5 separate regions of the Homo sapiens genome follow, and all the other regions are reported to be linked to region 1. Evidence: microRNA targets listed by miRTarBase, many of them from high-throughput screens and not tested one by one. Region 1 holds a microRNA gene; each other region holds the end of a gene's coding sequence.

Region 1 (6,011 bases):
ATCAGTTTTTCCTAATGACATAATGCCTGGGTATAGCCAAACTCAGGAAAGCCTTGTAATAAAAGCCATTTTTAGAAAACTTTCCTGCTGCCACTGCCCTCTAAGTTATCATTACAACTTCAGCTGCCACCTCCTATGAATTGGCCAACAAATTAGCATAGCAGGGCAGCAAGTCATTGTCTCTCCTGACTTCCTGTCCATCAGTACACCCGAGATGTGTTTGTTATCACCATCACCATCTTAGACAAATCTGGCTCAAGGGTAAGGCTATCTGGAGCATGGTAGGTAGAGATAGGTCTTCTCTGACCGGCCGTGGGCATGGAAAAAATAAAAAAGATTAGCACTTGTCCTCTCGAGAAGTCAGGGCATTTTGATGGAAACTAGGCTCTGTTATGAAGAGACAGCCTAGTCTGCAGAAAAACGGGAGCCTCGCGAGAAGTGTCATCTGGGTGCCACGGGCACTGATGTCTGGAAGCGTCTAGTCACCTCAGGACATCAGTCCCCATAGAGACCTTCTGAACACTGATGCCCTAAGTCATCAAGCAGCTTGCAGGCTTGTGGTTTGCTTTGCTAAGAATAAATAGGGACTGAGAGTACTCAGCCATCTCAAGGTGTCACACAGAACCACATCTTGGTACCTCATGGATTAGGAGTGATAATCATCCTGGGCTCTGTTCTCAGCTCAGCTCTGGCCTCCTGCTAAGCCTAGGGTAGGCTCAACCTCAAGGCTGGAAACCCCCAAGCTAGGCAGCAGCAGTTGTCAAGCATGCTGTTATGGCTGTGAAGGGATTCTGGGTCCTTTATTACTCATAATTGTGTTTCACTTTGAGAAACAAAATTCGAGGCTGAACAACATAGTGAGACCTCATCTCTACTGAAATTTAAAAAAAATTAACTAGTGGCCGGGCGCGGTGGCTAACGCCTGTAATTCCAACACTTTCGGGGGCCAAGGCAGGTGGATCACCTCAGATCAAGAGTTCGAGACCAGCCTGACCAACATGGAGAAACCCCGTCTCTAGTAAAAAGACAAAATTAGCCAGGCATGGTGGCGCATGCCTGTAATCCCAGCTACTCAGGAGGCTGAGGCAGGAGAATCGCTTGAACCCAGGAGGCAGAGGTTGCAGTGAGCTGAGATCTCGCCTTTGCACTCCAGCCTGGGCAACCAGAGCAAAACTCCATCTCAAAAAAGAAAAAATTAACTGGTGCTGTGGCGCACACCTGTAGTCTCAGCTACTTGGTCGGTGGGTGGCCTAAAGTGGGAAGATTACTTGAGCCTGGGAAGTTGAGGCTGCGGTGAACCCTGATCGAGCCACTGCACTACTGCAGGCTGGGTGACAGAGCAACACCCTGTCTCACAAAAAAAAAAAAAGAGAGAGAGAAAGGAAAGGAAAGAAAAAGAAAGTAAATAAAGAGAGAAAGAGAGAAAGAAATAAAAAGGAAGGAAGGAAGGGAGGAGGGAGGGAGGGAATTCCAGTGGAAGGAAGGAAGGAAGGAATGGAGGAAGGGAGGGGAGGGGAGGAGAGGAGAGGAGCAGGGAATTCCAGTGGATTCAGGATTATCCCTATCATAAATCACTCACCACTTACTCCCTTGCATCCTACTGTGCTTTGTTTTTTTTTTGAGACAGGCTCTCACTCTGTCGCCCAGGCTGGAGTACAGTGATGCAATCAATTTCAGCTCACTGTAGCCTCCACCTCCTGGGTTCAACTAATCCTCCTGCCTCAGCCTCCCGAGTAGCTGGGACCACAGGCATGCACCACCATGCCCGGCTAATCCACTATGGGTTTTTTTTGAGTGGGAAAGAGAGGAGTGGCCTCACAGCTAGTGTGCCTGAATTGGCATGCCTGTGAGAGGAGCTTGCATGTGAGTGTTTTGTGTTACATGCGCTGTGATGGGAAAGAGGGTGCTATCAAATATACACAGAGGATTGCTTAGCCTGCCTGCCACCGAACAACTATGTCAAAAGTCCCCAGAGTCTTCACACAAGCCGTGGTGTATGAAGCTGCATCCTCAGGACCTGGGCTTGGGTGGTAGGAGGAATTGGTGCTGGTCTTTCATTTTGGATTTGACTCCAGCCCCACAGCCTCAGCCACCCCAGCCAATTGTCATAGGAGCTGGATTGGAAGAAGCGGAAGAAATCTGTTGCCTGAGTGGAGAAGACTGTACAATGTCCTGTCTCTCACCATGGGGGATTTTTGTGGCAGGAAATGAGAGTAATGAGGTCCCTGCCACCACCTTGAATTATGGGTGGCTCCAGAAAACCTTATTGTAGATTGAGGGGGAAGAGAAGGGAGAGCGAGGTCTTGTTGCATGCTATTTTCAACCCATGCTCTGATATCTCTCAAGGTTGTAGACTTTAATACTAAGAATTGCTATGTTATTTTAAATTTAATGATGTTCTTTGAATGGCTGAAAGCATGGCCAGGACCAGCAAAAAGGCCCAGTTACTTAATTGACTGAGCTCCATTAATTGTCCATTTGTGAGGTCTGGGGTTTGGTTCCCACAAAGGCAATTGACATTTGGGCCCAGTGAGAACACATGGCTGAACAGTAGGGTCATAGGAAGACCCACAGGCACAAGTCCATCCCTTCCTCTGAGACAGCAATGGTATTTCCATTGTTGCCATGTACTTTTACAGGAATCACCAGTGGTTGACTTGAGAGCAAATCAGCCAATGGTCTTGTTCAGTCACCAGCAGGGGCCTGAAATGGGGACTAACATAACTGGGAAACACTGTCCACCCTGGGAGGAAACCAAGCCCAATCAGAATATTATCATTAGATGAGGAATAAAGAGTTCTGACAGTGTGTATTTCACTGGGCTAAGCAGTCACCTAGCCTCCCAAGTATAATGGATGTGGTGAAATAAGAATAAAGTAACTCACGCCAATTGGATTATTAAGTACTTTACAATGTACAAGAAGAATTTAAGTTAGACACAAGTCAGTAAAGGTGGTGCTATGGTTTGATTGTGTCCCCTCCAAAATTCAGGTGTGGCCAGTATGATAGTATTAAGAGGTCGGGGCTGGGTGCAGTGGCTCACACGTGTAATCCCAGCACTTTGGGAGGCCAAGGTGGGCGAATCACAAGGTCAAGAGATCGAGACCATCCTGGCCAACATGGTGAAACCCCGTCTCTACTAAAAATACAAAAAATTACCAGGCGCAGTGGCTCATACCTGTAATCCCAGCTACTTGGGAGGCCGAGGCGGGTGGATCACCTGAGGTCGGGAGTTCGGGACCAGCCTAACCAACATGGAGAAACCCCGTCTCTACTAAAAATGCAAAATTAGCCGGGCATGGTGGCACATGCCTATAATCCCAGCTACTCAGGAGGCTGAGGCAGGAGGATCGCTTGAACCCAGGAGACGGAGGTTGTGGTGAGCTGAGATCACGCCATTGCACTCCAGCCTGGGCACCAAGAGCAAAACTCCATCTCAAAAAAAAAATAGCTGGGCATGGTGCCACACACCTGTAGTCTCAGCTACTCGGGAGGCTGAGGCAGGAGGATCACTTGAACCCGGGACGCGGAGGTTGCAGTGAGCTGAGATCACGTCACTGCACTCCAGCCTGGCGACAGAGTGAGACTCCGTCTCAAAAAAAAAAAAAAAAAAAAAGGTAGGGCCTTTAGGAATTGATTGGGCCTGGCCAGGCGCGGTGGCTCACACCTGTAATCCCAGCACTTTGAGAGACCAAGGCGGGTGGATCACCCAAGGTCAGGAGTTCAAGACCAGCCTGGCCAACATGGCGACATCCTGTCTCTACTAAAAATACAAACATTAGCTGGGCGTGGTGGCAGGCACCTGTAATCCCAGCTACTCAGGAGGCTGAGGCAAGATAATCGCTTGAACCCGGGAGGCGGAGGTTGCAGTGAGCCGAGATCGTGCCATTGCACTCCAGCCTGGGCAACAAGAGCGAAACTCTCATCTTAAAAAAAAAAAAAAAATGTGATTGGGCCATGAGGGCTTCTCCCTTGTTAATGGGATGAAGGCCCTTTTTTTTTGAGATGGAGTCTCGCTCTGTCGGCCAGGCTGCAGTGCAGTGGTGCGATCTTGGCTCGGCTAACCACAACCTCCGCCTCCCAGGTTCAAGCAATTCTCTGCCTCAGCCTCCCGAGTAGCTGGGATTACAGGCGCCCGCCACCACGCCCGGCTAATTTTTGTATTTTTAGTAGAGATGAGGTTTCACCATCTTGGCCAGGCTGGTCTTGAACTCCTGACCTCGTGATCCACCTGCCTTGGCCTCCCAAAGTGCTGGGATTACAGGCGTGAGCCACCACACCTGGCCGAAGACCCTTTTTAAAGAGACATCATGCAGTGTTGGGCTAGCTTGTCCTTCTGCTGTGTGAGGATGCGGCAAGAAGGTCCTCACCAGACCAGAATGCTGGTGCCTTGATCTTGGACCTCCCAGCCTCCAGAACTATGAGGAATAAATTTTTTTTTTTTGAATAAATTTCTATTGTTGATAAATTACTCAGTCTCAGGTAGTTTACTGTAGCAAGACAAAATGCACTAAGACAGATGGTGAATCTAGGAATGGACTCCCAAGGAAGGCTTGCGACTATCTCTTGTTGGAGTTTTCTGACACTGGGAAATCTGATATCCGAGGGCGCCTCATTGGAAGTCTGAGTGAGAGAGTCACACAGACTCTCCTGAGAGGCCTGTTTGTGTTTCAGCAGCAACACTGCCCTGCATCTATCAGAGTCTCTTCCCTGGGTCCACACATAGAAAATGTCACCACTGTCTGTCAGTTTCCTGCAGAGACCTGGGAAAAATAGCAGAAAGCCTGGCCTCAGATTTGGATCCCATTGGTAGGACCTAGAAGTATGGTCCGTGGTGGTGCGGGGGGAGGGTGGGTATCTGCTCTCTGCTCTGCTCGACTCTATTCTGGTTGTCAAAGCCATCTGTCTCTCAAAAGCAGTGGAACAGAGGGCCAGAGCCTGGTCCCCATGATTTCCTGCTTGTCATGGTTTGCTTCCTTCTAGCAGATGCCATGTAGCCAGGAGGCAGAGTGCGGACCACCCTAGGTGGCTGGGAGAGGTTGGCAGCCAAAGCTCGGTGGCCTCGCTGCTGCTTCAGAGGATCTGGGCATGGGGGTTAGGGACCTAGGCAACTCGTTTAACCTCCATGTATCCCAGTTCCCTCAGCTCACGAATGGATCTTTTAATCATTGCCATAGAAGGATGTTGTGAAAATCAAACCAAAGGAGAGCGCTGGGAAATGCCTACCTTGCATATACTTATCAAAGCAGACTGACGCCAGCTGCAAAGGAGCGTGCTGTGGGAGGGCTGGGGCTATGTTTTTGAGCTAGAAGAATAAAATGACAGCAGTTTGAGAAAGAGGGGGAAGCAAGTCACCCTATCATTCTGACGGTGTCTCTTGATGGTAAAAATGCAACAGGCCCGAGGGAATACTGACATTTTTGTATGCCTTTGTTTTCTTCTTGGTTTTTTTTTTCCTCGAGCTCAGAGAAGCACCTCCCAATTCACATGCCTTCCTCCTCCATCACTTACAGCTGAGAGCCCAGGAGGAGGGAGTGCTACAACGTGGTTTTTCTTTATCACCTCCTCCCTCAGTCTAGCTCTCTGCATTCGCCACCCCTTGGCTCTTCTGTGTCATGTGGCTGAAGCTGTGGGGTCTCTCCAGGGGAAATGTCCTCCCAGAAAGTGTTTAGGGGTGGATTCGAGGCTCCCGATATGTCTTAGGTCCCTGAGTAGGGATGAATTGTGCCCAGATCAACTCTCCTGGCAAAGATTGGACATGCTTAGGCCCTTGGGCAGCATTTTCAGGAATTCAGTGCTTCCCAAATGCCCTGTGTGTCACTTGCCCAGTTACTCTTTTGGTCATTCCCCTCCCAGGACTGATGAAACATTTCCCACCTCCACCCCACACCCACCTTCCATAATCCATAACCTCCTCTTTCCCATGTCCAGATTTAAGGGACAGTCAGTGGAGTGGGGAGGGGTCGGAGGGTGTCTGAGACGATCGTCTGATAGCAGCTGAGAGTGGAGAG
Region 2 (6,011 bases), not on the chromosome of region 1:
GAACCCGGGGACTGGAAGTTGCAGTGAGCGGAGATGGTGCCACTGCACTCTAGCCTGGGCGGCAGAGTGAGACTCAATCTTGAAAAAAATAAAAATAAAAATAAAGAATGTCCCAAACCCAAAACGCTGACAACGCCAAATGCTGGTGAGGACGTGGAACAGGAACCTCAGTCATTGCAGGTGAGGACGTGGAGCAGGAACCTCAGTCATTGCAGGTGAGGACGTGGAGCAGGAACCTCAGTCATTGCAGGTGAGGACGTGGAGCAGGAACCTCAGTCATTGCAGGTGAGGACGTGGAGCAGGAACCTCAGTCATTGCAGGTGAGGACGTAGAGGAACAGGAACCTCAGTCATTGCAGGTGAGGACGTAGAGGAACAGGAACCTCAGTCATTGCAGGTGAGGACGTGGAGCAACAGGAATCTCAGTCATTGCAGGTGAGGACGTGGAGCAACAGGAATCTCAGTCATTGCGGGTGGGAATGCGAGATGGTGCTGCCACTGGCGGAAGACACTTCAGTAGTTTCTTACAAAATGAAATACATTCTTACCACACAATCTAGCAGTTTCACCCCTTGGTATTTACCCAGATGAGTTGAAAGCTTAGGTCCACACAAAAACTTGCACGAGGGTTTTTAACAGCAGCTTTACTCATAATTGCCAAACCTTGGAAGAAACCAAGATGTCCCTCAGTCGCTGAATGGTATACTGTGGCCCATCCAAACAGTGGCATGTCACAAAGCACTCCACCCTCTGTGGGGACTCTGCCTTCTGGAGTGCCCTGGGCTGGACAGGCCACAGCCCACTCCCCACTCCTGTGTCCTCAGCTGAGGAGTGGCCAGTGCTGCACCGGCTCCTGGGGACACTCAGTGGGTACAAGACATGACCCCTTGTAGGTTTGTATCTTGTGGCCTCTGAAACCCCATGAAGTATCAGGAGGAGGAGATATCATGGTGGGATACTGAGGGGTGCAGCCCCCTCCAGGGGCAGAGGGAATGATGGGGGTGCTCAGGACGTGTCAGCAAATGGGAAGGGTCACAGCCGGAAGGGTAGCAGGAGGGTAGGAAGGGCCAGAGGTGGGAACCGGGTAGTTACATCGACCTGAGAGAGATGGAGGGGGCCTGGCCTCACAAGAAGGGGATGCATCGTGGATGTGAGGTTGCAGGAAGGTGGGCTGAGCCTGTGGGCAGGTGTTGGTGCTCCCCTCCCCGACGGGGCACGATGGGGACAGAGCATGGGAGGGAATATGAAGCAGGAGCTCTGTCTTGTACACATGGAATCTGAGGAGCTGACAGATGACCTGTGGGGAGGGTGGTCCCGTGCCAATGTGTGCTGGAAGGACATGCCTGTGCGTTTATCAGCTCTGGGCTGCAGCAGGGCACAAGCGTGGAAGAGCAGCCATGGCAGAAGGGCAGGTTTCAGAGTGGACTCTTGGAACCAGCGCCCTGTGCCCCTCCAGCCACCGTCCCGGAGGGCACCCAGTGACCCGGCTTTCGATGCCATTCTGCCTTGAGGGACGTGTCCAACTTTCCTAAGTGGAACCACGCGGCATGGACTTTTTTTTTTTTTGAGACAGAATTTCACTCTGGTCGCCCAGGCTGAAGTGCAGTGGTGCAATCTCGGCTCACTGCAACCTCTGCCTCCCAGGTTCAAGCGATTCTCCTGCCTCAGTCTCCCGAGTAGCTGGGATTACAGGCACCTGCCACCACGCCCAGCTAATTTTGTATTTTTAGTAGAGATGGGGTTTCACCATGTTGGCCAGGCTGGTCTCAAGCTCCTGACCTCAGGTGATCCACCCGCCTCAGCCTCCCAAAGTGCTAGGATGACAGGCGGGAGCCACCACACCCAGTGACCACACAGCGTGGACTTCTATGTCTGCCTCTTGCTGGGCCGTGAGTCTGGGAGGCTGGCCTGTGGCTGGTGTGCAGGCTCCTATGGCCTTGGGTGGACCATGGCAGCAGGGAGGGGAACAGCGTTGGTGACGAGAAGGCTCTGGGACTGAACCTGGGAGAGGGGAGGAAGGGGCCCCCCTGGGCGTGAGTCTGTTGAGCTCCTGACTGGCGGGCGCAGGCCCCTGTGCCACTGAGAGGTCTCCTTACCTGTGAGCGGCGGTGCCTCCGACGCCAGCCTCGGGTCAAGGTGGGGCCCAGGCTGTTCTTACTATTGTCCTCCAGCGATTTGCAGGACACCTTCAAAACCCTCACGAGTTACCGAATCGGCTGATTCAAAACCCTCACCAGGCACCAAATCGGCTGATGCTCTTGATCTCCGACTTGCCAGCGTGCAGAACTGCATAAATGAACCTCTGTTGCTTGCAAGCCCCCCAGCCTGCGGTATTTTGTTACAGTAGCACTAACGACTAAAACGGCCATGATCCTCCCACCAGGCCTCTTGAAAACTCCGATGCGTGCTGGGGAGAGAAGGACAAGGGCACAGGGCACCTGCTGTGATGAAAACAGCTTTGACCTCGGGACACCCTGGAAGGGTCCTGAAGCCCCCAGGCCACACTTGGAAGAACGAAGCATGTGGGTGTGAGTGGTCCGGGGCGGGGGTGGCAGCCAGCGCTGTTTGCGTTGGGCGTGTTTATAGACTTGATTTCTCTCCACACTTCATTCCAAGAGATAGACACTCAAACTATGAAAATTGTTTTTATTTTAAATCAAAGTACCAGGCAGATACTTGCAAAACAACATACAAAGCAAAACTCAAACATGGCCCTTCCCTAGGGCGCCTCTGAGCAGGCACAGAGAAGTTCTCACCCTCTGCAAAATCCAATCCAATCCTATCTTCTCAGAAAACCAAACCAAAGGCAGCCATGAAAACCCGTGTTCTGTACGTGGTTGAGAAGGTCCTCCTCTCTGAGTACTGGCTGGCCCCAAGGCGCAGAACTGGGAGGTCCAGGGAACCCTGCCCCCGAGGAGCCAGCAGGACCTGGAGGAGCCGGGGGCGGTGCTGACAACAACCTTCCCCACCCACTGCAGTGTGGTTCCCATGAGGATGAGGGCTTCTCCAGGGCCCTTCCCCACGCTGGGGCTTGGAGCCCCTGCCAGAAGCAGCTGGGTTGGCGGTAGATGTCCCCGAGGGCCTTGGGAAGCACTGGGAATGGGCTCCCAGCCCTGGTGGAATGGGGGATTGGGAATTAATTCTGAAGCTGGTTGTGGCTTATTTTTGTATGGCTCTGAAATTAACTTCCTCTCCCTATGCCTCAGTAGCTAAGGGGCAGGGGCAGAAAAGGTCCCAACCCTGTTCTTAAAAAGAAAGGAAATGAACCCACAACCCACTGGAAGTTCTGTTGACGAGGGCTGTCAAGGCAGACGCACTCGTGACTTTGACAAAGGGAAGCAGCTGGAAGGTTGCGGGTCCCAGGGTCACAGGCAGCTGTATTAGTGACAGGTTCTGAGCTGGTGGGTGGGGGCCGCAGGGCTCTCCTGACCCCCGTAGGGTCATACCGCTGCATGCTGCAGAACTCAACTAGAGTGGAAATGAGTTTAAAACGGAGTATGTACATCAAAAGATCAACATCACGCCGAAACCAGCTGACTGTGACAACAGCAAACAAAAATGTAACAGAGAAAACAAACAAGACACAGCCTCAGTAGCTTGACATGGGTGAGGGCAGCCAGGACAGGGCCCTGGTGACAATGGCGCAGAGGTGGGGTCTGGGCCGCTCACTGGACGGACAGCCAGCCAGTTCCCTTCGGAGCAGTGAAGTGGGACACAGGACCCTCGCATTGCGGGGCCTCAGACGGGCCTTCAACTGCCGACAGAATCAGCAGGAGCGTCCAGGGGAATCTGGCACTCAGGGTCCTCCCGGGACATGCCCTGTTGGAGACGGCAGGAGGCCTGGGCTGGCTGCTCCCTGAGATGCCTGCCCCAGGACCCTGGCCTGGAGGGGCCTCAGCCTGGTCTTCCTTGTGAGTCCAAGGCCAGGTCTCAGGACAGCCACAGACAGCCCTTCCAGACAGGCTCTGGGCTCCACCTTCGGCAGCTGCCCTGAGCAGCCCACCCGGGGCAGCCTCCTGAACACCCAGGGGCTCTCCCTTGGACAGAGACCACCAAGGGCCAGCCCAGGGGCTGCATGGGGGCCGGGGGCCAGGGAGCCAAGGGCTGTTCCGTGGCCAAGCAGCCCAAGCTGAAGGGCCCACATGGGAATCCTCGACCTCCATAGTGACTGGTTCTGTTTATGCCTCTGCCCCAGGACTGAAGCCCTAGGGACACACCTCATGGATCTCAGACCCCTGGGAGGGGCCGGCTCAGGGACAGGCTGCCCAGGACCTCCGCACCCGGTCAAGTGCACTCACAGGGGCTCAGGGGCCACCCAAAGAGCTAACTCGGGAAGCCTAGGCACTCACCATTATTTTGGTTGAAAATGCTATAAATCTGACTCTTCCTAGAAGCCTACTAAGCAATTCACTTAAAAACACCCTCAGTACATGTGCAACAATGCCTGGACCACGCCTCGTCTGTGCGGCCCCTGGGCCACCTGAGCACCGGCTGGGGGCGGGGGAGGCAGGCACCCATCAGGATCTGCACCCCAAGCTCCGGGTGCATGTTCCCAACTGGAGGAGAACGGGGCGCCAGCCACACTAAACCTACAGAAAACTGTGGGAAGAAACCAAATCCATAGGATCCAGAGGTTTCACACTTGGGCTTAGCTCCCAAGTCATGAGTTAGTAACGTCCCCAGGGACCTGGCTGGGTGCAGACATGGGGGCCTCGTGACCTGCTGCACCGCGTCCAGCACCTGCAGGGTCGCGCTCGGCACCTGGCTCTGCTTCCTCTGTCTCTGCTGCACCCAGGCTCCCCCTAGCCCCCGCCCACCTGGCTCCTGATCAAGGCCCAATGTGTAAACAGTATTAATAAGCAACAGATGGAAAAATATATTTCCCAAGAAAAAAGGGGGAGGAAACGTGGGACCTGAAGACCGATTTTCCAGGTTGCTCTCGCTGTTCTGTCCCCTTCTCTCTTCTCGTGATTTGTTTTGGCGATTCCTCTCTTTGGTTCTGCAGACCACGTGACCCACCTGCCCGAGCCAGCCCTGCGGCCTCTGCCCGCTCCCTGCTGCCGCGGCTGAGAGACAGCCAGCCCTGTCCGTCCCAGGGGCCTCGCCCTCCTGTCGGCTACTTCCGCTCGTGGTCCTCTGCCATGGCAGCCACCTCAATGGTGGCCGTGTGCTCCTCAGGCCCGGGGGCAGCCCCTGCGGGCACTGTCACAATTGTGCTGGAGCCAGGCGAGGCCTGGGCCACGTTCTGCAGGGTGGGGCCCAGGCCAGGCAACGTGAGCAGCTGTAGCGGGCTGACCACCTTGAACACCGTGCTACCGTCCTGCACGGCGGCCGTGCTCAGGACCGTGAGGCTGGACGCGTCCGGGTGGATCTCCACTGTGCTGGGGTAGGTGGAGCCGGAAGAGGCCAAGACTGTGTATCCCCCGAGCAGCGGGGAGGCCGGGGAGCTGGCGGGGGGCGCCTGAAGGGAACCCTTGCCCAGGACGGTGGACGGCAGGGTGGACACCACTTTACCAAGGGGCACGCTGGTCAGCTGGGGGACGGGCACGCCCGGGCCAAGCGCCAGCTGGGCAGACTGGGTGAGCACCTGCGAGGCCATGGCGGCCGGTCCTGATGTGGCACGTGCAAGCCGGGGCCGCTTCACAGGCGGTGGCAGGGAGACCGGCGTCAGCGTCATGAGCACGTTGCTGAGGTGCTGGGACTTGTGCTTCAGCTCCTTGGCTCGGCGACGATGCTCATCACACTGCTGCTCCAGGGCTGCAGGGAGGTACAGATGGCATCACACAGGGGACGGGGGCATGGATGGCGGCATGCAGGGGATGGGGGCAGACACGCCACACCATCTGGGTGGCCCCTGGGTCAGTGGCAACCCAGGTCTGCTCACCTGATGCCACAAACCCAGATGACCACATGGCCGCCAAAGGTGAGGTCTGTGGGAGACGGGGCCCAAGATGGCCCTCGGGGTAGACACCAGCCTGTGCTGACCCAGGGTCTGCACTGACCCGGGGCCTG
Region 3 (6,011 bases), not on the chromosome of region 1:
TCTGTTTATTCCAATTCCACAACTGTCTCCTTGCTCCCTTTTTATGGCATTCCATCCTACAGTGGAAGCGAAGGGGCTTTATAAATCTGCCTGACATTGGGTTGTAGTCATTAGGCAGAGAAACTTGAAACATTGAAGGGACCAAGGAGAGAAGTCAGGTGGAGAGAAGTCAGGTGAAATGGCTAGGAAGACAGGAATTTGGATTGTACTTCTCTTCAGGCTAATATCACCCACAGTTCCCGTATCCCTGGGATCCGAAGGATCCCTCCCTGTCTCTATCCGGGGATTATGAAAGCCCTACTGAGGATTTTAATTTAGGCAGTATTTCTGGAAGTGATATTTTCATTTCACTTGGCTTTAGACTTGGAGCCTAGCTCTAATAAATATTTAAAGATGATATTGAAACTAGAATTTTCAAGTTAGATACAAAGCATTTGTTGAGCAGCCGTTAAACCCGGGATTCTAAGGAAATACAACACAGCTATTATTTGTGTTCATGCTTACAGCGGAGCATTGGAAGGGGAAGATGAAGGTGGGTTTGCTGCAAGGTGAAGTTGGGGGTCAAAATCGTGGTTAGTGGGGGTTAAGGTTAGTACTGGCTTTTGCAGAAAGGGGCAAAAAAGAAGTTCATCATCTTTGCTTGCTTTTTGCTTTTGCAAAAGAATGAGAATAAGAAAAGCAAACAGAATGCCTGGGACAGGAACCCTTGTCTCCTTCAGACTTTTTGTGGCCTCAGTGTCTTCTCCGATTGATGGATAATTCACTTACCAGTCTCAAGATTCCAAAGAGAAGCATCACCTGGATGCAGGAGGTGGGAGGTAATTTCCCTCACCTCATCTTGAAATAATCCATGTGGGAAGTTGTTATCTAGAATGCCTGGGTTCTAGAGGGCAGATGGGCTCCAGAGGGGGCCTTGATGCCTGGTGTCTCAATGGGACATGAAGTTGCAGGAAGAATTAAAAGCTTGCCAGGGGCAGGGTTCTGGGAGGAGTAAGATCAGTTGGGGTAGGTTCCAAGACAGTGGTGAGTGGGGACTGGGAATGCTGGATTCCTGGGTTCTGAGGGTTGCTCCCACAATATGTCTGGCTTAATTTCTTTTCTCACTTGACCATAGCTGTGGCATTTATAGTTGCCACCAGGCAGGGGAGGCCGTAACTTCTGGACGCTCCCTCTCCAGGGAGGGGTATCTTAAGGCCATGACAATATGAGGGAAGAAGGAGGGAGCGGGAGAGAACAAGGGAATCACATCTGTGGGAGGAGAGGAGACCCACCCTCCCAGCCAGAGGTCAGCAGAAACCTGTTTTCTCTGGGATGTCTCATTTCTGGGACAGAGGCCTTTGTAGGAGGCAGAGGGGAGAAAAATGAAGGTGACTGTGTCCCAAATCATTGGATCTTCTTACTTTGCCAGCACCTCTCCAGGGACAGCTGGGCACTGTGAGGGGAGGATGCAGAGCCTGTGACTATGAGGCCAGTTAATGTGTCTCCGGGGACAGAGGCTGGCAGAAAAAACCCTGACCTGGGATACTGGCAGTGAGGCCAGAAGAAGACTCTGGACGTTCAAGGAGCTGGAAAGGGAGGCCTGGACTCTGGAAGAAGGGGCTGGACACCCTCGTGCAAATCTCAATTACACCCTGTTCCTTAGGTGGTCCCTGTAACATCCCACCCGTCCAGGTGGGGCTGCCTTGGTGTCAGAGAACCTGGCTCCACTGAGGAACAAAGTGAAATTGAGGCTTGGAGAAAATAAAGCAAGCCTTCTGTTCCATAGGAGCCGTGTGGGTTTGAACAGGGCTCTTCTCTGAGCCTCGGTTTTCTCATCTGTAAAGCAAGCTTTATAAGAACTCTTATAAGGTCTGTAACTTCTTATAAGGCTTGTAAAGCAGGCCTCGTAACTCGCAGGGTGATCGGAGGATCACAGGTGCGATGTACGTGAAAGCACAGCACAAACGGGTGTCAGTTTTATGGCCAATGTCACGGGGGTAGGAGCTACGCCCAGGCCCGTCAGTCCAGGCCCCTCCCTGGGGGCTGGGGGCTGGGAGGAGGGGATTCGGCGCAGTAGGGCTGGGGCGCTGCGGGGGCGGCGGCCTCGAGCCACTAATCTGAGCTGTCCGCAAGAGATCAGAAGCCGCCCGCAAAGCGGAACCTGGAGGAACGAGGGAGGGCCGCAGTCTCGGGGAACCGGAGCCCCCGCTGCGACTCCGCCGGGACAGCAGCTTCCGGCGCCCCGGCAGCCTCCTGCCCTCGGGGCACTCGCTCCCCCCGAGGTGTACTCCCCGAGGGCTGGGGGAGCGCATTCCCTCCCGTCCTACTGATTAAGTAATTATCCCTAATGAGGGCCCAGCCCCGGAGCTTGTTAAAGGATTTCCGCCTAGATTTCAAAGTGATAATTAGCGGGGAATAGAGAGGAAAGTGGGAGGGAGACACCCGCCGCGCCCCAGGGCCCACAGTCCGCCTTTGCCGGGCGAAGAACCTCCCCATCCCCCTTATACACCCTTTGACCTCCAGTGCTGCATTTTGGTGTCTTGATAGGGGAGGGGTCTGTCCGGTTGGATGTTTAGGACTCTAGAGGCAGAGATGTTTTTATTTCGTTTTGTTTTTGAATTGGGGTCCAGGCTGAGTTTAGGGGTTTCTGCATCCCTCCCAGGGCAGAGAGACACTCCTGTCCTGGCAGATGCCACAGGCTGAGTCACCGTCTACCCAGACAACTAAAATCCAGGCATCTTCCTCCTTTTCTCGAGGGCTCTCCAGCCCCTTCCAGAACCCAGGTGTCCCTCTGCCTCCTTTCTCCAGGGGCCTAAGTCTGGGTCCCTCTGGCATCTGGCATGTCTGCTTTCTGAGAGTCAAGCTTCAATCTTGCCTTTAGCAGAGCGGGTCTCTGGTGGGAGATTCAGTAATAAGGGCCTTCCCAGCCCAGCCAGGGCCAGATAGTTCAGTGACATCAGTGTCAGGGTTGGGATTACTGACCATGATAGGTTTCCAGCTTTCAGCAAATGGGGATGCCCAAAGGAGCAGATAGCGAGTGACCTGTGGCCCTGCTGTTTGATTCTGGATGGAGTTACGTTTAGGAGCCTGGCAGCAAACTGGGGCACCTGTTCAATTAGTGATGATGCCATACTCTGGTAAGAGAGCCAAGGCTGCATGGGTGATGGGAGGTTTCTGTTGGGACTGACATGGGCACACAACGGTTTTGGAGCAGGGCTGGTGTCCTAACATAAATAGGGGGCATAGTAGATGCTCACGGAGTTGGGCTTAATGAATTAGGGTGTTGTTTTATTCTATATAGCACCTAACTTGTGACAACTCTTGTTGAATTATTTAATTTTAATTTTCCTGTCTTTGTGTCTCAGGTGAGAACTATGTCTTATACTTCTTTATATCCTCAACAGAGTATATAATAGTTGCTTTAAAATACTTGCTTATTAATTGACAGGTTTTTCTACTCATTTTGTCACCATGCAAATAAACCCAGCCTGGACTGAGGCTGGCTCTTACCTAAACCCAGAAAGGAGCCATTTTTGGAGCAATAGAAATTCAGCCTCCCCTTTCTTGACCCTCCATAGATTGCCAGTCCTGCCCTCCAGCTCCTCTGTCTCCTCCACTTCTGTAAGGTCTCAGCCAGAGCCAGGAACGCCAGTCAGAACTTTCTCCCAATGGATAGTCTAATAACTATGATGCCCTTTATAAACATGTTATACTTTATTATAAAAAAGGTCAATAGACAGAAGGAAACTATCATCATCATTCTCCTTTTCCCCCTCTACCCAATCAGTAATAAGGTGAAATGGCCATAAGAAGAGAGAGAGAAAATCCAGAAAACACACACAGATGAAATGCCTACAAGGAGGAAAACTTGAATCTGGGGTGAAGGTGGGAGGAGAGAGAATGGGGACAGTAGAGAAGATGGGTAACTTTTACGAGATAAAGCTACAGCTGGCTTTTGGTGGAAGAGACAGGAAAATAAATGCTGAGACACCAATCAGGGAAGGTCTGGGGTGGAGATCAGTGGGTGAGACTGCTGGCCAAATAAAAATCCCCTCCTTGCGTGTCCACCCACAACCCAGCAAGCCAAACCAACAGGGCGTCCACTGTAGACATTTAGGAAAACTAAGGGATTTGGGAGGAAGAGGAAGCAACCATGTAGATGAGAGATATTTATGATTTCTTCTGGACTTTTTTTTCTCCAGGGCATGGAGAGAGTGGAGAAGGAAATAAATTCTCTTTTCTTCTTGGATCCGTTTTTTTTGTTTTTTTTTTTCATTAAAAAAATGGGGGTGGGGGCAAGGGTCCTGAGAACTCAGAGATGAGCCTGTTTACACACAAACTCTTAAGTAATAGTGAATGGAAATAACATAATGCTGTCCTGAAACCCAGAGACTCTGCCCTCAGTCCCTCCCTTTCCCCATAAACCCCACTCACAAGTCAGTCTGGGGCATTGCCTATAAGGCTCCTGTCCTTCCTTTAGGACTCAGTGCAGTGTTCTGCATTGGTGCCCCCACAACATGTCCATCAAACACCTTTTCATTCTCAGACCATTACCTTCTACAGAGAATGTCTGCTCGTATTATTCATTCTTTCTTCTTTGTCCCCTAAACTTACACCCTCCTTGCTTATCACCTCATTCCCCAACCAGTTTCAAGAACAGATGAAGGGTTAATACTGGTAACCGTCAGTATTCTCTGCCCTTCCTGTAGTCCCGGAAATAGAAATTGTGAGTCCGGTTCCTCATCCAGGAAAGGGGCAGAGCATGGAAGAGCCAGGGCTGGGCGCCTACTCCAAGATCACCGTGGGGAAGGGATCTGGCCCATGCCAAGATTCTGCTGCTCCATCAGGTAGACCGGGTAGGAATTGGGGCCACCCTCATCCTCTGCATCATTGTACTGGGTGTTCTGGGTTAGTGTGCGGCGTGTCCGCATCATATAGGAGACCTGTGATTGGGATGAGAAAGGAGGAATGAGAACCATCTGCGATTTGTTTTCCACAACACTCACCTCAGGTCTTGATTCTATTCTCAAGATTCCATCCAAACCTTGATGTTTATTCCAGCTCCAGGTCCAATACAATGAGTCCCAGCTCCATCTCCAGTTCCCCACTCTACCATATTCTCCTTGTCTTTACACCTCCTATTCTCATACCCCAGACTCTCCACCCCCCACACTTTCTCTTTCACACCCTTTCATTCTCAGCCACAGCCTTGTCCCCAATTCCAGCTTTTTACCTCCTGTGTATTTATTGTCTTTCTCCTTAGTTTTCACCAAAACTCTCCCTCTATTACTGTTCCTCCCACTTCTGCCATGTCTCTTTTCCTAGACTCATTATTCCCTGTAACTCTGACCCCTAATGTATCCTCAATTCCCTATCCCATAGGTTGATTTCTGTGGGGCACATCTGTCCCTTACCAAGAAGATCAGGCCAAGGAACACCAGGAGGAGAATCACAGCCACCAGGACCACAATAACTATGGCCCATGCAGGGAATGAATCATTCTCTCCCATCTGTCCAGCGTGGATACCTTTCTGTGAGCCATCTTTATTGAGGTATGGATGGCTCTCGTTTCCTGTGGCTTCTGATGTGATAGAACTCAGCTTCGTTCTAGATGTAATGAGGGTGAAAGAACCAGTGGGCACCTGATGAGTAACTTCAGTTTTATTTAGATGAGAAGAGGTAGTAGTGAGAGATTTGTCTCCTGTGACCTTGACTGAAGGTTTTATAGTCTTTGTGACTGCTGCTGTTTTTTCTGGGTTTTCTGTGGACTTTACTGGGGCTTTTATGGTCTCAGTGGTCAGTGTGGTGTTCCCCAGGTTTTCTGTAGGCTTTTCTGGGACTGGTGTGTTTTTCCCTTTGGTGCATATGGTCTTCTCTGAGTATAGCGTAGGCTTTTCTGGGGTTCTTGTGGTTTTCTCTGTGGTTGACGTGGTCTTTTCTGGGTGTTCTGTGGACTTTTCTGTGACTTGTGTCATCTTCTCATGGGCCAATGTGGTCCTTTTTGCATGTTTTATAGGCTCTGCTGGGGCTGG
Region 4 (5,830 bases), not on the chromosome of region 1:
TTGGGGGCTCTCTGCCATGCCTGGGCCTCCCCTTTGTCAGCCACCTTTCTTACTTGAAAATTTGGGTCAGGGTCCAGATGGTCTCTTAGCCCTGGGTTGCTGTAGGGCATGTGCCCCCCCTTCTTACCTCTGAGTCCTGAGGCCCTGAGGAAGGGTGGCTGGTGGCCAGCCCGGCCCCACCCTGGTCTGTTTGTGTTGCTGGTGCCAAGAGCCAGGCCCAGCATGTTCTTCCTGCCAGGGGTGAGTGGGAGAGGGCGACCCAGGCTGGATTCCAGAGCTGCACCTGCATTCTGGCCCAGAGCCCCCCTGCTGGTGCCAGCTGCAAGGGGAGACCCTGCTGAGGGCAGGCCATCAAGTGTGACTTCTGCCTGCCTTCCCCCAGGGCCGCCTGCCCCGGTACCTCATCCACCAGAGCCTCGCGGCCACCATGTTTGAATTTGCCTTTCACCTGCGACAGCGCATCAGCGAGCTGGGGGCCCGGGCGTGACTGTGCCCCCTCCCACCCTGCGGGCCAGGGTCCTGTCGCCACCACTTCCAGAGCCAGAAAGGGTGCCAGTTGGGCTCGCACTGCCCACATGGGACCTGGCCCCAGGCTGTCACCCTCCACCGAGCCACGCAGTGCCTGGAGTTGACTGACTGAGCAGGCTGTGGGGTGGAGCACTGGACTCCGGGGCCCCACTGGCTGGAGGAAGTGGGGTCTGGCCTGTTGATGTTTACATGGCGCCCTGCCTCCTGGAGGACCAGATTGCTCTGCCCCACCTTGCCAGGGCAGGGTCTGGGCTGGGCACCTGACTTGGCTGGGGAGGACCAGGGCCCTGGGCAGGGCAGGGCAGCCTGTCACCCGTGTGAAGATGAAGGGGCTCTTCATCTGCCTGCGCTCTCGTCGGTTTTTTTAGGATTATTGAAAGAGTCTGGGACCCTTGTTGGGGAGTGGGTGGCAGGTGGGGGTGGGCTGCTGGCCATGAATCTCTGCCTCTCCCAGGCTGTCCCCCTCCTCCCAGGGCCTCCTGGGGGACCTTTGTATTAAGCCAATTAAAAACATGAATTTAAAAAAAAAAAAAAATTCCAGCCCCTCCCACTGCCTTGCCTCTTGAGGGAAGAGAAAGGCAGGCAGCAGCTTGGATGAAGAGGGAAGACCCCTCACACAGCCTCTCCTGGGCTCACAGGAGGGCGGAGCCCGGGGAGCCAGTTCCTGAAACATGCCCCCCATTCCCCCCCCGCCCACCCCCCACTCCCCGCTTTCCTGACCAGTTCAACTGAGCAGATGACTGGTCAGAAAAAAATGCCCCGCCCCCTGCCAGGCTTCAGCGGGGCAAGTTTAAAGTCTCTAGTCCAGGAATGGAGGTGGGGGTATGGGCACCTGGCAGTGCCCACAGCAAGCCTTGACTGTGTGGCCTGGAGATGGGGCCTGAGCTTCAGGGTCACTGAGGCACCTCTGGGATCCAGGCCACCTGGAGCCCCGGACCTCCCAGACTCCACTCACCCATTCCCTCTCCCCGCACGGCACTCACACCAGGGGCGGCCTGGAGCCCGGATCGCAGGGCGGGGCCAGGCCACTGCCTGCCTTCCTCCTCCCTCCCGGCTGGCCTGCCCCCTTGCCTGCCTGCATGCAGGCTTCCAGCAGAGCCAGCTTCTTCAGAGCCAGGTGGATCCTGTTTCGGTCCTGCCTAGGTGTGTGACCCTGGGCGAATCTACCTCTCTCAGCTTCTGCTTCCCACTTTATGAAAATGGGACTGATGTCACAGGGTTGTTATGAGATTAAAAGATATGAAGAACCGGGGACAGTGCTCAGTAATCAATAGTCTGCAGTTCTGCACCCACGTGCTCCTGGGTACTCTGCCGTCCCCACAGGGTCCTCAGCTCAGCCCCTGTCACTGCCTCTCCTGCCACCCTTTGTCCACTCGGCAGTGTTCTCACTCCTCATCCCCCCACACCCACCACCTGTCTGCCAGCCTCTTGCACCATGAGTTGCTACTCCTGGGGTGCTGGACTGTCCCCACAGCCATCTGTCTCCCCTGCTCCCCATGAAGAAGAGCCAGTCCCCTCCCAGGTAGCACATCAGAGCGGGCAGGCTCCAGAGCTCTTCTGGTCCTCTTGCAGTGGCCAGAAAGTGGGGAAAGGGGCCCAGAGAGGGGCAGGGACTGACCCATGGTCACACAGCCTATTTATGGCTGATCTGGAGCCAGGCCTTCTGACTATCACCCATCAGAGCCCCTGGATTCCCATTTCACCCAACACAGGTGTTGGGGTAGAACTGGGGGCCCTCCACCCCTACTAGCCTGACTGTCTCCTGAGACCTGTCTCCTAAGACCACTTACCTGACCACTGGCCATGGGGAAGGAAAACACCTGGCCAAGGCTCATGCCCCAGGTTCCCAGGCATGAAGTTGACTGTCTCCGCCCCTGCTGGTGTGGTGAGGGTGACTGGGGACTAGGCACTAGGCCTTTGGTGCAGGCGCCTGAGGACGTGGTTGCACTCTCCCTTCTGGGGATATGCCCTTGAGCCCAGGCAGAGGAGAGCACAGCCAGGGCAGGACCTGGCAGCCCTGGTACAGAGCCCAGAGGGGGCATCAGTTCCTGCTGGTCCTGCTCTGTTTACAGACAAGCTGCTGTCCTCCCTGCAAAGGGGAGTGGGTGGGGCAGAGGGCAAGTGCCAGGGGGGCACAAGGCTGGGCATGTGGCTGGCATGAGACGGTGTCTGAGTAATGTCAGGCACCTGGAGGCATTGACCCCAGGACCTTGGACCCCAGACCTCTGACCGGGGGGCAGCCAGCGTCCAGGTACCCCAACCCCTGCCCTGGGTCCGGCGTCCCCCCATTAGTGAGTCTTGGCTCTACTTATAGCATCTGACACCAGAGGGGCCGAAAATAGCCCCTGGAGAAGGGGGAGGAGGGGGCTATTTAAAGGGCCTGGGAGGGGAGAGAGAATGAGGAGTGATCATGGCTACCTCAGAGCTGAGCTGCGAGGTGTCGGAGGAGAACTGTGAGCGCCGGGAGGCCTTCTGGGCAGAATGGAAGGATCTGACACTGTCCACACGGCCCGAGGAGGGGTGAGTGTGGGTCTGCTAGAGCCCTGCCTCTGCTCCCCCAGAGCACCCTCACTGAGCCATGAGGCCAGAGCATGAAGCCCTGGAGAAATTTCTGGGGGTGGGGGCAGGAAGAATGCCCCATGGGGAGAGCAAAGGGGAACCACCCTTCCTGCCCCCAGGTCCCAGCAGCCCAGGGGAGCCCCCCACCCAGCCTGTGCCCAGAGAGCAACAGCTCCCAGGAGCTCACTGCCCCTCCCCTCTCCCCAGCTGCTCCCTGCATGAGGAGGACACCCAGAGACATGAGACCTACCACCAGCAGGGGCAGTGCCAGGTGCTGGTGCAGCGCTCGCCCTGGCTGATGATGCGGATGGGCATCCTCGGCCGTGGGCTGCAGGAGTACCAGCTGCCCTACCAGCGGGTACTGCCGCTGCCCATCTTCACCCCTGCCAAGATGGGCGCCACCAAGGAGGAGCGTGAGGACACCCCCATCCAGCTTCAGGAGCTGCTGGCGCTGGAGACAGCCCTGGGTGGCCAGTGTGTGGACCGCCAGGAGGTGGCTGAGATCACAAAGCAGCTGCCCCCTGTGGTGCCTGTCAGCAAGCCCGGTGCACTTCGTCGCTCCCTGTCCCGCTCCATGTCCCAGGAAGCACAGAGAGGCTGAGAGGGACTGTGACTTGGGCTCCGCTGTGCCCGCCCTGGGCTGGGCCCTTCCTGGCTAGGACTGTGGAGGGGAGCTGCTGGCCATGGCTGCTTTGTAGTTTGCCCAGAGTTGGGGGCTAGGGGAGGGGGGAGCCAGAGGCCAGGATGCCTGAGCCCCCTGAGTTCCCAAAGGGAGGGTGGCAGAGACAGTGGGCACTAAGGGTGGAGAGTTGGGGGCCAGCACAGCTGAGGACCCTCAGCCCCAGGAGAAGGGACAAAAGGTACTGGTGAGGGCAAGAGGTGCCTGGGAGGAGTGGCCCTGATCCAGGAAAATGTGAGGGGAATCTGGAACGCTCTAGGCAGAAGAAGCTGGGAGGGAGGGGGAGGTGAAAAGGGCAGAGGCAAGGATGGTGGGGCCCCCAGCACCCTCTGTTAGTGCCGCAATAAATGCTCAATCATGTGCCAGAGTTGCATCTCTTTCCTTGTGGTTGGGGGGGCTGGCCCATGGGTGTCCCCTCAATGCCCACTTCTGGGACCAGGCTCCGCATCTGAGCTAAATATGGCAGAGCTAATGGGTACACCCCATACTTGGGGTGGGGGTGGGGGCAGGACAGAGCTGTAAACAGGGTGCTGTCTCCAGTCTCCTTCCCGTACCCTGACCGCTGCCCAGTCCTGGCTTCTGTGTCCAGCCCCCTGGCACTGGGTGGTAACCAGCAAGCCAGCTGGCATCCGCATCCAGGGTTTGTTTCAATGATGTCTCGTGGAGAATATGGAGGGGCTGGTGCCAGGACTGTCCTTGGCTTTGCCTCGGGGTGTGAACGGGGTCAGTGACCTCTAAAACTAACCTGCCTCTCAGTTCTGAATCCAGACAGAATCAATCCTCAGCTGTGTCTCGCTCCACACCCCCTGCCCTGGAAGCCAGGGAAGGTTGGAGGTGCTAGGGGGTCAGGCTCCCCTCTGTGACCCCTGCAGCTGTTGTGGTGACTCATGTCCCAACCTAGCTGCCTCTCCCAAGGAGACTTTCCCCTGGGGACAAGGGGGAGGGAATGGCATGGAGGAGGCCCACATCAAGCGGGGCCAGGAACCCACGGTGGCAGGAGCTGGGCTGGTGACCTACCCAGGGCAGAAGGGCCCGGGACTCATCCAGAGGGGAAGGAAGGGGTCTTCAGGAAGACCACGGAGATGCCACAGGCAGAATTGGCTTCCCATCTGGGAGATAGGTGGGGAGACCCTGGCATTTTGACAGCCAGAACCTGGGGTGCTGAGCAGAATCTTCATGCCTGGCCTGGCCGCTCCTTCGGAGGGAAGCTGGAGGGTGGGCTGCGAGAGGAGTGGGGTCAGAGCCCCTACATCCGCAGGACCCCAAATCGGCTGGGCCCCAAGGCCCGGACTGCGCTCCCCGGTGGCCCCGGCGGCCCTCCGCGAATGCGTCCTGCCCCTCCCCTGCCCAAGCCCTCTGCCCTCACCCGGGTCCGGCGCCGCCCCCGAAGTGGCGGGAACAACCCGAACCCGAACCTTCTGTCCTCGGGAGCCCCCAGATAAGCGGCTGGGAACCCGCGGGGCCCGCAGGGGAGGCCCGGCTGTTCCGCCCGCTAAGTGCATTAGCACAGCTCACCTCCCCTATCGCGCCTGCCATCGGACGGGCAGTGCCGCGCCCTGCTCTGGGGCCCCCGGAGCGACCACAGCGGAGGCCGGAACGGACTGTCCTTTCTGGGGCGGGGTGGGGAGGGGGTGTCGCTGGAGGGCCCGGTGGCATAGCAACGGACGAGAGAGGCCTGGAGGAGGGGCGGGGAGGGGGAGTTGTGTGGCAGTTCTAAGGGAAGGGTGGGTGCTGGGACGGGTGTCCGGGAGGGAGGGGAGCCTGGCGGGGTCTGGGGCCTCGTCGCGGAGGGCGCTGCGAGGGGGAAACTGGGGAAAGGGCCTAATTCCCCAGTCTCCACCTCGAATCAGGAAAGAGAAGGGGCGGGCTGCTGGGCAAAAGAGGTGAATGGCTGCGGGGGGCTGGAGAAGAGAGATGGGAGGGGCCGGCCGGCGGGGGTGAGGGGGTCTAAAGATTGTGGGGGTGAGGAACTGAGGGTGGGGGGCGCCCAGAGGCGGGACTCGGGGCGGGGCAGGCGAGGCGGAGGGCGAGGGCTGCGGGAGCAAGTACGGAGCCGGGGGTGTG
Region 5 (5,855 bases), not on the chromosome of region 1:
GATTTTTACTTACTGAATGAGGTGTGTTGAGTGTATAAGACTACATGATGAGATGGCAAGTAATTGCCTGAAGAAATGATGTAGTGATTTTGTGTGTCTTATATTTATTTACTTTTTGATCCAGAAATAAATTATATAGATACCACTATTTTGTTTGGATGGGGGAGAAAGGATGGGTGTGTATTCAGGAACTTATGTTACTTTTTTGCAACTAATACCCCTTCTCAGTAGTACAAAGATTTGATTTCTTTTTCTTTCTATTTCCTACAGACTTCATCTGCAGAGAGAAAGAGACGATTACCTGTGTGGTTTGCCAAAGGAAGTGATACCAGCAAGAAATTAATGGACAAAACGAAAAGGGGAGGTCTTTTTAGTTAAGCTGGCAATTACCAGAACAATTATGTTTCTTGCTGTATTATAAGAGGATAGCTATATTTTATTTCTGAAGAGTAAGGAGTAGTATTTTGGCTTAAAAATCATTCTAATTACAAAGTTCACTGTTTATTGAAGAACTGGCATCTTAAATCAGCCTTCCGCAATTCATGTAGTTTCTGGGTCTTCTGGGAGCCTACGTGAGTACATCACCTAACAGAATATTAAATTAGACTTCCTGTAAGATTGCTTTAAGAAACTGTTACTGTCCTGTTTTCTAATCTCTTTATTAAAACAGTGTATTTGGAAAATGTTATGTGCTCTGATTTGATATAGATAACAGATTAGTAGTTACATGGTAATTATGTGATATAAAATATTCATATATTATCAAAATTCTGTTTTGTAAATGTAAGAAAGCATAGTTATTTTACAAATTGTTTTTACTGTCTTTTGAAGAAGTTCTTAAATACGTTGTTAAATGGTATTAGTTGACCAGGGCAGTGAAAATGAAACCGCATTTTGGGTGCCATTAAATAGGGAAAAAACATGTAAAAAATGTAAAATGGAGACCAATTGCACTAGGCAAGTGTATATTTTGTATTTTATATACAATTTCTATTATTTTTCAAGTAATAAAACAATGTTTTTCATACTGAATATTATATATATATTTTTTAGCTTTCATTTACTTAATTATTTTAAGTACCTTTATTTTTCCAGGATGTCAGAATTTGATTCTAATCTCTCTTATGTAGCACATGTGACTTAATTTAAAACCTATACTGTGACACAGAGTTGGGTAAACGATGATTATTTAACTTTAAGCAGTTCACCATCCATTTCAAAGCCTTTGATTGGCTTTTTTGTAAATAAAAATAACTTGTTAAGAAACAAATATATCTGTCATAGAAGAACTAGAAAATCCAGGGAAGTGAGAAAAATGAAAATAAAAATCATTCATAGTTTTACTAGTAGCTAATCACAGTCAACCTCTTTTGTGTATCCCACCAGACTTTTTTATATTCATTTGTTTTTAGTTAAAATATAAAAGTCTCGTATATTCCCATTTTTCTGCATTGCATTACCAGAAGGTAGTGGCGCCTATTAAATATGTGATATGTTGTTGTCCAGCCATGGCTTCTGCATTTGCATGCTTTTGTGTGTGCATCTGCAATACCCTGTGAATATCCTGTGTGATGGAGTGGCAAGTACGCACAGACACGTCTGCTGCATGCCTAGGTACGAGGCTGTCTCCAGGAGAAGCACTTGTTTGATTATTTGAGTTGCCAATTGAATTTGCTGCTTTTTTTCATGGCTTGCCATTTTCACTGAAAAGAATGACTAATGAAAAACGATGATTGGTTATTAGATTTGGATGTTTGGCAGACATTTTCTCAAAATTGAACTAAGTTGGCCTCTTCACGGAAAACAACTGGTATTTGTTGTGCCAATGATAAAATTGGAGATTTCTAGCAAAATGTATAATTTTGGAAAAGTTGTGTTCCTCCACTGGAAGCTTGACAGCTTTCCTTAACATAAAGACTTCTCTTTCTCTTCGCTTTCACTACTACTACTACTAATTCTTCTTCTGATTCTTCTTCTTCTCCTTCTTCCTTCTTCCTTCCTTCCTCCTCCTCCTCCTTCTTCTTCCTCTTCCTCTTCTTCTTTCTCTCTTTCCTTCCTTCCCTTCCCTTCCCCTTCCTTCCTTCCTTCCTTCCTTCCTCCCTCCCTCCCTCCCTCCCTCCCTCCCTCCTTTCTTTTTCTTTCTCTTTCTTTCTTTCTTTCTCTCTCTCTCTCTCTTTCTTTCTTTTTCTTTCTCTTTTTCTTTCTTTCAAGCAGTCCTCCCGCCTCAGTCCCCCAAAATAGTGGGATTACAGGTGTGAGCCACCATGCACAGCCTTACATAAAGCCTTTTCTAATGAGATGGATAGTAATTAACAAATGTGAGTTTTTGATATTATATAAAGATTTTTTCTGTGTTTCGAAGATCCGTATAACTCAGTGAATCAGTATGTTCTGGATGACTAATATGTGATGTTAAGAAATCATGACTGAGGCCGGGCGCGGTGGCTCACGCCTGTAATCCCAGCACTTTGGGAGGCCGAGGCGGGCGGATCACGAGATCAGGAGATCGAGACCACCCTGGCCAACATGGTGAAACCCCGTCTCTACTAAAAATACAAAAATTAGCTGGGTGTGTTGGTGCGTGCCTATAATCCCAGCTACTCGGGAGGCTGAGGCAGGAGAATCGCTTGAACTCAGGAGGCGGAGATTGCAGTGAGCTGAGACTGCGCCACTGCACCCCAGCCTGGCGACAGAGCAAGACTCCGTCTCAAAAATAAAAAAAGAAATCATGACTGGGTAAAAGATCTGTTCAGAGTACAAGATGGACCAATGGATTTGATATATTTGAATATAACAGAGTATGAAAAAGTTTATTGATATAGTTTCAGATTACACACTGCAACTAATCTTTAAGAAACTATTACTTGTCCACTTTTTGGTAAAATTTCAGAGAACAATGTCCACCATTATCTGAACAGGCTATTAAAATACTCTTCTCTTTTCCAACTACGTGCCTGTGCAAAGTCAGATTTTTTTCATATACTTCAGCCAAAACAGCATATCAAAATGGATTGAATGCAGAAGTAGATCTGAGAATACAGCCACTTTTGTTAAGCCAGACAATGAGATTTGCAAAATGTAAACAATGCTGCTGTTCTCAGTTTTTAAAAATATGTTTTTTAAAAGTATTTATGTTAATGTGTACTTGGTTTACTACTGCTATTTTTAAATAAAACAAGAAACATTTTTAAATGTCTGTTTTAATTTCTAAAGTGGTAGTGATAGATATAACCCATATTAATAAAAGCTCTTTGGGGTCCTCAGTGATTTTTTTTTAAGAGTATGGAAGGGTTCTCAGACCTAAGAGATTGAGAAATGCTGATGTAATGTTTTATTATAAAGGTGTACCATGAATTATGTACCTTACTTCATATTGTTGGACATTAAAGTTGCTTTCAGTTTTTTTGTTTTAAACAGCACTGCTTTGACCTTTTTTAAAAAATGAGTCAGGGTCTTGCTGTGTTGCCCAGGTTGGAGTGCAGTGGCTATTCACAGACATGATCATAGCATGCTATAGCCTTGAATTCCTGGGCTCATGTGATACTTCTGCTTCAGCCTCCTGAGTAGCTGGGACTATAGGCGTGCACCACTATGCCCAGCTGCTTTGAACATTCTTGAAATGAAATATGGTATAGTCTCATACCATATCATAGCCAGAGGGGGAGAGAGAGAATTTTGTTGTTGTTGTTATGTTATCTGTAGTGGACTTTATGCCTTCCCAGCATAAATTCTCTCTTTCCCCATTTTTCGTGACTCTTGATTTTTGTTGGGGTTCGTTCCAAGGAGAATAATTTCCATCTGGATATTGGATTGGCACCTGTGACCTCTTCTGAGCTAGACCCTAGTAACAGCGTTTGGATCTGGGGTAGGTGTGTGGCCAACTGAGCTGCTGGTTCATGCCTTTCCTGAAATGAGCCCTACCTCTGAATATTTCAGAAACATGGGACATTAACTTCCCTTTACTTACGTTAAACCCCTTTGAATGAGGAGTTGTTTTTCACTTCCAGTTGTGTTCAGTTGTCACAGAAGCACAGCGATGTGATTGGTGGAAGGACCCGTCAACAGACCCAGAAGATGTAAAGTGTTTTTAATCTCAAAGGATGTGGAATCTCAGAGATAGTTACACCGAGTAGAGGATGAAGCGGCTCCTGGATGGAGGCAGAGGCTTCCTGGATCTTCAAGTTCTGTATGGGTTGTTGTATGAGGTTGGTGCAAAAGTGAGGCAGGAGAATAGGGTCTGGAGGCAAGGAAACTAAGGCCGATTCACACTGACTTCCTAGAACTAAATCAAAAGGAAAACCCCAATTTTCCAGACCTAAATAACAAAAGTACCAGATGGCTCCTCCCTTTCAACTGCCCCTCCCCCACACCTTTCTGCGTGGCACATGGAAAATTGAAAGTATCTCTGGTTGCTTCTGCGTAGGAATGTAACTTTGTAACCAATCAGACGGATCGCAGGCCAAGTCGCCTGCATAGAAATGTAACTTTGTAACTTCACTTTAGCCTCTGATTGGTTGCTTTCCACAACCAATCAGATGCTTGCATAGGGTGTACCTGTTGTGACTTCACAAAGTGGTGGAAGTGGTGGAAGTGGTGGAAGGGTGGAAGGGCTATTTAAATTTTTATTCATCCTCTGATTGGTTGTTTCACTTAAGCCTCTAATTGGTTCTTGAGTCCTGGAGCCTGTGAAGGGTACTTTATTTTCAGTAAATGCATGCTTTTTTTGCTTCATTCTTTCCTTGCTTTGTGCATTTTGTTCAGTTCTTAGTTCAAGACACCAAGAGCCTGGACACCCTCCACTGGTAACAAAAGTAACTGGTGTTTTTGCCATTAGAAGTAATGGCACAGAACAAGTACATGAGAGCGATTTCTTATGGAAAATTAAATGGCGCATAAGTCGTGTGCTCAGGTAAGGGAGCTGGGAACCGGTAGAGGAAGGTCTCCAACCCACACCCGTGGGATCTCTGAGTCTTTGAAAGTCCGTCCTCACCCTTTGTGAAGAATGGGAGCACGGCTGGACTCGTCACCGGGGGTTTTGGGGGGCTGAACTTGTCATTTGAGGGTGTAGGGAGGTTGGATGAATCGCAGGGGTGCAGGGAGGGGGCCCACTGGAGCTCCACCAGGACCCCAGCACCCTAGATCCAAACCTGGTCATGCTTCCCATGCTCAGAGGCAAATCTCCCTCCCCTTGGGGGGCGGAGTCAGACGAGACCCCCTCTCCATCCTTTTCCAGGTCCGGCGGGGGCGGGACTTTAAAGGTAAAAACAGCAATTACTTTTGCACCAACTTATCTTCTAAGTTTCGCTCCCTACCACCTGAGTGTGTTTGGAGGCTCTGGCTCATTGTACCTGCCTGATCACCAGGTGCAAGTAGCTGGGCCAGAAGGACCTCGGCACGTTACGGAATATTTACTACAGGAACAGGTGAGCTGAAGGCGAATTCCCCAGGTGTAGCCTGTGACCATAGATTCAGACAAAGCCCTGACTGTTGCCTGGAATTCAAAAAAGCTGTAGCCCTACCAGATAGAATAAGAAAAGAATATAGGATTCTTCCTATTCAAATAGGTTGCATATAATTAAGAGCATGAACGATCCAATGGAATGAACTCAAAGTAGTTTTTGAGTGTAATAGACTTGAAGTGTCTTATGGAAAAGAATTGCAAAACCACAGAAACAGTGAAGAAGGTTAGTTATAGCCTTGATGGGGTAGCTGACTTCAGCAGTCTCAGCTATCTGAAAAGTTATTTACCAGATTTTGGTTGGGAACATAATCCCTAAATCATTTGAGATAATGTACTTGTTTCCTTACTGGGTAAATGTGTTTAAACCTTGAGAAAATGTAGACATAAGTAGAAT

What was found. The annotated mature microRNA hsa-miR-766-5p reads AGGAGGAAUUGGUGCUGGUCUU and lies in region 1 at 2,033-2,054, shown strand. An mRNA with a match to its seed (bases 2 to 7 or 8) in the 3' UTR can be bound and repressed. Matches are read on the target gene's strand: a 7mer-m8 pairs with bases 2 to 8, a 7mer-A1 pairs with bases 2 to 7 and ends in A, and an 8mer does both.
Region 2: the mRNA of GMEB2 is a reported target of hsa-miR-766-5p. Seed matches in the 3' UTR shown: 7mer-m8 at 4,897-4,903, 7mer-A1 at 4,557-4,563 and 7mer-A1 at 2,929-2,935.
Region 3: miRTarBase lists MUCL3 as a target of hsa-miR-766-5p. Seed matches in the 3' UTR shown: 7mer-m8 at 4,114-4,120 and 7mer-m8 at 3,838-3,844.
Region 4: miRTarBase lists STARD3 as a target of hsa-miR-766-5p. Seed matches in the 3' UTR shown: 7mer-m8 at 1,566-1,572.
Region 5: the mRNA of WRN is a reported target of hsa-miR-766-5p. Seed matches in the 3' UTR shown: 8mer at 1,877-1,884, 7mer-m8 at 2,001-2,007 and 7mer-m8 at 2,094-2,100.

What each region holds. Positions count from the first base shown.
Region 1 is chrX:119,642,842-119,648,852 of GRCh38, reverse strand. It overlaps MIR766 (microRNA 766), which reads left to right and starts at 2,005; the gene lies at 2,005-2,115. All of the region lies in intron 5 of SEPTIN6 (septin 6), which reads left to right. RefSeq lists an enhancer at 772-951.
Region 2 is chr20:63,584,974-63,590,984 of GRCh38, forward strand. It overlaps GMEB2 (glucocorticoid modulatory element binding protein 2), which reads right to left. Exons shown (of 10, transcript NM_012384.5): 10 at 2,632-5,756. The coding sequence ends at 5,116. Among named protein-coding and RNA genes, the nearest start is that of HELZ2, 14 kb to the left of the region's middle. RefSeq lists enhancers at 2,505-2,674, 3,268-3,437, 5,355-5,524 and a cis regulatory region at 2,590.
Region 3 is chr6:30,951,882-30,957,892 of GRCh38, reverse strand. It overlaps MUCL3 (mucin like 3), which reads right to left. Exons shown (of 3, transcript NM_080870.4): 2 at 5,394-6,011; 3 at 3,672-4,922. The coding sequence ends at 4,776. It overlaps HCG21 (HLA complex group 21), which reads left to right and starts at 3,031. Exons shown (of 3, transcript NR_138040.1): 1 at 3,031-3,116; 2 at 5,362-5,531. RefSeq lists an enhancer at 1,501-2,181.
Region 4 is chr17:39,662,422-39,668,251 of GRCh38, forward strand. STARD3 (StAR related lipid transfer domain containing 3) reads left to right here. Exons shown (of 15, transcript NM_006804.4): 15 at 383-1,780. The coding sequence ends at 487. It overlaps TCAP (titin-cap), which reads left to right and starts at 2,928. Exons shown (of 2, transcript NM_003673.4): 1 at 2,928-3,048; 2 at 3,295-4,133. The coding sequence starts at 2,939. The coding sequence ends at 3,688. It also overlaps a transcript of PNMT not described here. RefSeq lists enhancers at 3,347-4,084, 4,085-4,822.
Region 5 is chr8:31,172,725-31,178,579 of GRCh38, forward strand. It overlaps WRN (WRN RecQ like helicase), which reads left to right. Exons shown (of 35, transcript NM_000553.6): 35 at 271-3,414. The coding sequence ends at 378. LOC105379358 (a long non-coding RNA gene) reads left to right here and starts at 4,351. Exons shown (of 2, transcript XR_007060884.1): 1 at 4,351-4,909; 2 at 5,364-5,855. RefSeq lists an enhancer at 1-524.